Linked DNA regions of Homo sapiens. The protein of the gene in region 1 purifies or fractionates together with the protein of each later gene. This does not show direct contact. Each region holds a gene or a part of one and is shown on either strand. Other genes may lie near its edges. The genes, in order: DDX19A and NUP88.

The links.
Region 2: the proteins of DDX19A (region 1) and NUP88 purify together in Homo sapiens (affinity purification with mass spectrometry; 3 studies listed by BioGRID and IntAct, with this or other methods). This does not show direct contact.

What each region holds. Positions count from the first base shown.
Region 1 is NC_000016.10:70,367,234-70,371,051, reverse strand, and holds part of DDX19A (ATP-dependent RNA helicase DDX19A), read right to left. Parts: intron 830-3,818; coding exon 667-829; intron 1-666. UniProt on the Homo sapiens protein: ATP-dependent RNA helicase involved in mRNA export from the nucleus.
Region 2 is NC_000017.11:5,391,936-5,395,753, forward strand, and holds part of NUP88 (nuclear pore complex protein Nup88), read right to left. Parts: intron 3,047-3,818; coding exon 2,956-3,046; intron 1-2,955. UniProt on the Homo sapiens protein: Component of nuclear pore complex.

The DNA.
Region 1 (3,818 bases):
GTCAGGACTACTGGTTTCTGCGGGAGTTCCTTTTCTTTCTTTCTTTTTTTATTTTTGAGACGGAGTTTCGCTCTTGTTGCCCAGGCTGGAGTGCAATGGCGCGATCTCACTCACCGTAACCTCCACCTCCCGGGTTCAAGCGATTCTCCTGTCTCAGCCTCCTGAGTAGCTGGGATTACAGGCGCATGCCACCACGCCCGGCTAATTTTTGTATTTTTAGTAGAGATGGGGTTTCACCATATTGGTCAGGCTGGTCTCGAATTCCTGACCTCAGGTGATTCGCCCACCTCGGCCTCCCAAAGTGCTGGGATTACAGGCGTGAGCCACTGGGCCTGCCCTCTTCCTTTTTTTTTTTGGAGACAGAGTCTCACTCTGTCACCCAGGATGGAGTGCTATAGCACATTCTCGGCTCACTGCAACCTCTGTCTCCAGGGTTCAAGCAATTTTCCTGCCTTGGGATTGCAGGCATGAGCCACCGCACCTGGCATGTGTGAGTTCTTACCACCTCAGGGAAATCCAAACAGTCTCTCCTAGAAAGGAATAGTGTCACCAACCCCACCCATCTCCCTGAGACCATCCGACTTCCCTGTATACAAGGATTTCTGGCTCTAATTGGGCCTGGGACCCCGAGCCTGGCAGACCAGGTGGGACACGTCCTCTGCTCACCGCGGGCACACACGTTGGTGGTCACCAAAACCTTCTCTTTGCCCTCTCGGAAGCGCTCAATCACCGCAGCCCTCTGCTCCACCATCATCTCCCCACTCAGCAGAGCCACCTGGTGGCCTTCTTTTGAGAGCTCTGCTGCCAGCCAACTAGCTGTTTTGCGAGTCTGGAAGAAAAAAAACAATTGAGAAATGAAAGTATTTGAGTATATATTTTTTCTTTTTGAGACACAGTCTTGCTGTCACTCAGGGTGATCTAAAAAGTCCTGGGCTCAAGTCATTATCCTGCCTTGGCTTCCCAAAGGGCTGGGAGTACAGGTGTGAGGCACCACGCTCAGCTGAAGATATTTTTGATCTGGAAGACTGTACCTGAAACTTAGCAGCTAAAAGCTAAATTTCTTAAAATTGTAAACCCGATATAGTGCAACAGGAAGTAACAATGTCACCTGGCTTGTAATCTTACGAAAATATTTGTACCTGGCTGGGCATGGTGGCTCACACCTGTACTCCTAGCACTTTGGGAGGACGAGGCACGTGGATCGCTTGAACTCAGGAGTTCGAGACCAGCCTGGGGAACATGGCCAAACCTGTCTCTACAAAAAATTTAGCTAGGCATGGTGGTGTAGGCCTGTAAGTCCCAGCTACTTGAGGGAGCTGAGGCAGGAGAATCGCTTAAACCTGAGAGGTCGAGGCTGGTGAGCCAAGATTGCACCATTGCACTCCAGCCTGGGTGACGGAGCAAGACCTTGTCTCCAAAAAAAAAAAAAAAGAAGAAAAGAAAAAAAAAAGAAAATTTATACCACAAAAATATTTAACCTGGGGCAAGATACGGTGGCTCACGCCTATAACCACAGCAATTTGGGAGATCAAGTGAAGGATCACTTGAGCCTAGGAGTAAAAGACTACCCTGGGGGCCAGGCGCGGTGGCTCATGCCTGTAATCCCAGCACTTCGGGAGGCCGAGGTGGGCCGATCGCGAGGTCAGGAGTTCAACACAAGCCTGACCAACATGGTGAAACCCCGTCTCTGCTAAAAATACAAAAATTAGCTGGGCGTGGTGGCATGTGCATGTAATCTCAGCTACTCAGGAAGCCGAGGGAGGAGAATCGCTTGAACCCGGGAGGCAGAGGCTGCAGTGAGCCAAGATCATGCCATTGCACTCCAGCCTGGGCAAGAGGCGAGATTCCGTTTCAAAAAAAAAAAAAAAAAAAAAAAAACCAGATTGGCCGGGCACGGTGGTTCACGCCTGTAATCCCAGCACTTTGGGAGGCCGAGGCGGGCGGATCACCTGAGGTCAGAAGTTTGAGACTAGCCTGACTAATATGGAGAAACCCTGTCTCTACTAAAAATACAAAATTAGCCAGGTGTGGTGGCACATGCCTGTAATCCCAGCTACCCGGGAAGGCTGAGGCAGGAGAATTGCTAGAACCCGGGAGGCAGAGGTTGTGGTGAACCGAGATTGCACCACTGCACTCCAGCCTGGGCAACAAAAGCAAAACTACATCTCAAAAAGAAAAGACTACCCTGGATGCTTCAAGATGTCATTGTAATGAGAGGCAATAAAATAAAGGTGAGGAAATTCTTCTAGATTTAGGAGTCTTAAGAGACATGACAACTAAATGCAACAAGCAAAACTTGACTGGCTCTTGGATTTAACAAAACAAAAAGCAATAAAGATGAGCTGGGCACAGTGCCATGTGCCTGGAGTCCCACCTACTTGGGAGGTTGAGGTAGGAGAATTGCTTGAGCCCAGGAGTTTGAGTCCAGCCTGGGCAAGATAGTGAGACCGTCTAAAAAAAAAAAAAAAGAGTATTTTTTGGCGTCAGGCGCAGTGGCTCATGCCTGTAATCCCAGTACTTTGGGAGGCCATGGCAGTTGGATCACCTGTGGTCAGCAGTTCAAGACAAGCCTGGGCAACATGGTGAAACCCCCTGTACCAAAAATACAAAAATTAGCTGGGCATGATGGCGGGCGCTGGTAATCCCAGCTACTCTGGAGGCTGGGGCAGGAGAATTGCTTGAACCCAGGAGGCGGAGGTTGCAGTGAGCCTAGATCACACCATTGCACTCCAGCCTGGGTGACAGAGCTAGATAGACTCGGTCTCAAAAAAAAAAAGAATACTTTTGGCACAAGTGGAGATAGGAGAACGTGGATTATATTTGAGAGATATATTACTGTTATCACTGTATCATTGCATTGTATGTTTCCTTGTTTTGAGACAGAGTGTTGCTTTATGACCCATGCTAAGTGCAGTGGCGTGATCACAGCTGACTGCAGCCTCTAACTCCTGGGCTCAAGGGATCCTCCCACCTCAGTCTTCCGAGTAGCTGAGACTACAGGTGTGTGCCACCACATCCAGCTAATTTTTTTTAAGTGTTTTAGAAATGGGGTCTCCCGACGTTGCCCAGGCTGGTCTCAAACTCCTGGGCTGAAGCAATCCTTCTACCTTGGCCTCCAAAGGTGTTGGGATTACAGGCGTGAGCCACTAAGCCTGGCCTCTTTTTTTTTTTTTTTGAGACGGAGTCTCGCTCTCTCACCCAGGCTGGAGTGCAGGGGCACGATCTCAGCTCACTGCAATCTCCGCCTCCCAGCTTCAAGTGATTCTGTTGCCTCAGCCTCCCGAGTAGCTGGGATTACAGGCATGCACCACCACACCCAGTTAATTTTGTATTTTTAGTAGAGACGAGGTTTCTCCATGTTGGTCAGGCTGGTCTCCAACTCCCGACCTCAGGTGATCCGCCTGTCTCGGCCTGCCAAAGTGCTGGGATTACAGGCATGAGCCACCGTGCTCCGGTGTCTCTTTTATTCTAAAATCATTTTGACATTTTCTTCAGAGATCTTAAATATTTATTTTTTCTATTATCAATGAGATCTATGCTTCCATTTTCTAAGTATTTGTTGTTTGAGACTGGAAAACTATGTGTGTGAATGTTATGACTATCTTGTTGAACTTTTTTTTTTTTTGAGACGGAGTCTCTCTCTGTTGCCAGGCTGGAGTGCCGTGGTGTGATCTCGGCTCACTGCAAGCTCTGCCTCCCGGGTTCACACCATTCTCCTGCCTCAGCCTCCCGAGTAGCTGGGATTACAAGCGCCCGCCACCACGCCGCGCTAATTTTTTGTACTTTTAGTAGAGATGGGGTTTCACCGTGTTAGTCAG
Region 2 (3,818 bases), on another chromosome or scaffold:
CCAACTTGCACATAAGCCCCAGCTATCTTTGTTTGCCTAGCCCAGTGCTAACAAATTAAGTGCTTAGAAACTGTTGAATGAACAGAACTACCGAGTCTCTCTCAATGAGGCCCAATGTCAATGTCACAGGAAATCACTTGGCACGCACAGCGTGTATCTCTCTCAGTCTTCCTTCCCACTTCAGTGAAGACACTGGAAACTGAGACCTCAGATGGGAACTGTCATTCTGCCAACATGCTCTCCTAGCGGCTCCCATGCCCATCCCACCTGCATGCCTACAACACACATCTGCCCCCGAATGTGGATGCCGCCTCCTCTCACACCTTCTGAAAATTGTACCATCAACTGTGTCGTTTCAAAATCTCCCTATTATCTACTTCCCCTCAGCTTGCAAACTCATGTCTCTTCCATTTAAAATACTCTCATTTCAATATAATGTCCAGTTCCCCTTAACCTATTCTTTCTCGCCATCCCTTTAGAACCAGCAGTCTTTAAACAGCAGTTGAAAACACTAGTTCCCCTTCCATAGCTCCCATTTACCTTTTTGGACAAGACATGGAGACGATATCTGGAAGGTTGTAAACTTTAACTTTTTATTATCAGTGTGAAATCTACACACTACTGGGCTATACACTATGTAACCAGTATCCAGGTCAAGAATCAGGACACTGCAGGGGGCCTCAGGGTTCCCATGCGACCTTCCCTGGTCATAGCCTTTCACTCCCCAGAGAAGTAGCCGCTACTCTGACATTCATAATATCATGTCTTTGCTTTGCTTTATAGTTTTCCTATCTATGTATTCACTCCTAGGCAAGACTGTTTAATTTTACCTGTTTCTGAAATTGATATAAATGGGATTTTGGGGTTTTTTTGAGATAGGGTCTCACTCTGTTGCCGAGGCTGGAGTGCAATAGTGCGATCACGACTCACTGCAGCCTTGACCTCGTGGGCTCAAACAATCCTTCCTTCTCAGCCTCCTGAGTAGCTGGGACCACAGGTACATGCTACCACAGTGGCTAATTTTTTTTTTTGTTTGAGACGGAGTCTCACTCTGTTGCCCAGGCTGGAGTGCAGTGACATGATCTTGGCTCACTGCAGCCTCCACCTCCCAGGGTCATACGATTCTCCTGCCTCAGCCTCCTGAGTAGCTGGGATTACAGGTGCCCGCCACTACACCCAGCTAATTTTTTTTTTGTATTTTAGTAGAGACGGGGTTTCACCACGTTGGCCAGGCTGGTCTCGAACTCCTGACCTAGTAATTCGCCTGCCTCAGCCTCCCAAAGTGCTGGGATTACAGGCGTGAGCCACCACGCCTGGCCTCACCTAGCTAATTTTTAAATTTTTTTGTAAAGGGTCTCACTATGTTGCCCAGGCTGGTCTCAAACTCCTGGCCTCAAGTGATCCTCCTGCCTCACCTGACAAAGTGCTGGGATTATAGGTGTAAGCCACCATGCCCAGCCTACATGGGATTTTATTATGTATTTTCCTTGTTCACTTTTCTTTTTTTTTTTTTTTTTTTGAGATGGAGTCTCACTCTGTCACCCAGACTGGAGTGCAGTGGCATGATCTCAGCTCACTGCAACCTGTGCTGCCCGGGTTCAAGCAATTCTCCTGCCTCAGCCTCCCGAGTAGCTGGGATTGCAGGTGTCTGCCACCATGCCTGGCTAATTTTTGTAGTTTTTAGCAGAGATGGGGTTTCACCATCTTGGCCAGGCTGGTCTTGCACTCCTGACCGTGTGATCCACCCACCTCGATCTCCCAAAATGCTGGGATTATAGGCGTAAGCCACAGTGCCTGGTTTCACTGTTCACTTTTCAAGCTGGTACAGTTTGCTATCCTTCTCATTCCCCACCAAGCGTTTTCCCTGTGGTCCTCTGTATTGCCAAACCTAGATTATGTCTATTTCTTAGTGTATGCTATTTGTCTCATGTCTGTGTATACTCCATGTCTAACAGAGTGCTTATGAGATATCTAGTAATTGATGAACAGAATAAAGGGAGGTATCTAGAATACCTTCCAGGTTTCTACTGGGGATAACTGGGGTGATATGGCACCCTTCAGAAAAATGGGACACAGGAGAGAGAGCAGATTTGGAAAGACAGAAGATGAGTTAAGGGGACATCTGGAGTTTTATGTTCCTATAGGATATCCAAGTGGAGGAGCCCAGTAGGCAGCTGGGTATGTGAATCTGGAGTTCAGAGTGGTCTGGGCTAGGGCGATATGGATGCGGGAACTGTCAGCACTGAAGCCATGATTACGGCAGAAGTTACTCAGGAAAGGACCTAGAAAGAATAGAGAAGACCCAAGGAAAGAGTTGTGAGCATTACTTATAAGCAGTGAGTAGAGGCAGAGGAACCCGCCCAAGAAGGAAACTTGAGAAAAGGGCTGCTGGCGGGACTGAAGGAGAACCTGGAGGGACAGACGTCAAGGATGCCAAGGAGAATGTGTTTCAAAGAGGAGACATGGGCAACCACATCAAATAAACACAGCAATGCAGTGAAGGGCAGACACAGTCTCTGCTCTCATGAAACATATACATTCCGGTAGTGGCGACAGACATTAAAAAAATGCAAATATAAATAGTGTAATATGTGCTACAATGGATAAGAGAATAGGAGAGCCCCAAGTTAGACTGGGGAGTCAAGGGTGTTCTCTGTGAAGAAGTGACATTAAGATCAGAAAGAAGGGTAGGAGTTAGCCAAGAGAAGACAGCAAGCTGGGGCTGGGGCTGGGGCTGGGGAAGGACCTTCCAGTCAGGAAACAGTATGTCGAGTGGCCCTGGAGAGGAGAAAGCTTCTGATGAGCAGGACACTCTTAGGGGAGAAGTATCACGTCTGCAACTTTCAAATGACTCAGCAGTGAATACTGTGGATGTGAGTGTAACGGATACAAACGTATCTGAACTGCTGAAATGAACAATTGTTTTCTGATATACAAGGGAGGGAGAGTCCTTACCTGCAGGGCAATGGCTTCGTACAAAGGATGTGTTCAACAAAGCATTTCTGTTCTGTAGAGAGTTCCTGTAAACTATCCTTATCTTCTTCATCTACCATGGAAGACATTACATAAATGAAATGATGCTTAGACAAGTCTCCAAATTAAAATGCTAATGATATTGGGTTAAATGCAGTGAGGTTCTTGTCTGAAAACATTGCTTCTCAAGTACTATGCTTTTCTGACATAGGCATACGCTTTCCCAGGGGGTCTAGATTTCCGCCCCAAGAAGTAGGATTTTCCTTCGTAATGTCTCTGAATGCAAAAATGTTTCACTAAGAACAGTGAAATCATTCTCTTCTAGGGTGCTGCTTACCCACACTGATTTTATTTTCATAAAGGTTGAGTATCCTTTATCCAAAATGCTTGGGATCAGAAGTGTTTTGGATTTCACATTTTTTTTTTGGATTTTGGAATATGTGCATTATACTTAGTAGTTGAACATCTCTTATCTGAAAATCTAAAATCCTAAATGCTCCAATGAGCATTTCTGTTGTCATGACAGCACTCAAAAACTTTTGTAGCTCACTCAGGTTCAAGGATGGAAAAAAGAAAAGTTTTGGATTTCAAATTTTTCAGAGTAGGGATACTCAATTTATAACAGCTTTATTTTTTTTTGGATGGAGTCTCCCTCTGTTGCCCAGGCTGGAGCGCAGTGGCCCAATCTCTGCTCAATGCAACCTCCGGCTTCTGGGTTTAAGTGATTCTCCTGCGTCAGCCTCCTGAGTAGCTGGGACTACAGGTGGACGCCACCACGCCCAGGTTTTAGTAGTAGACAGGGTTTCACGGTATTGGCCAGACTGGTCTCGAACTCCTGAACTCAG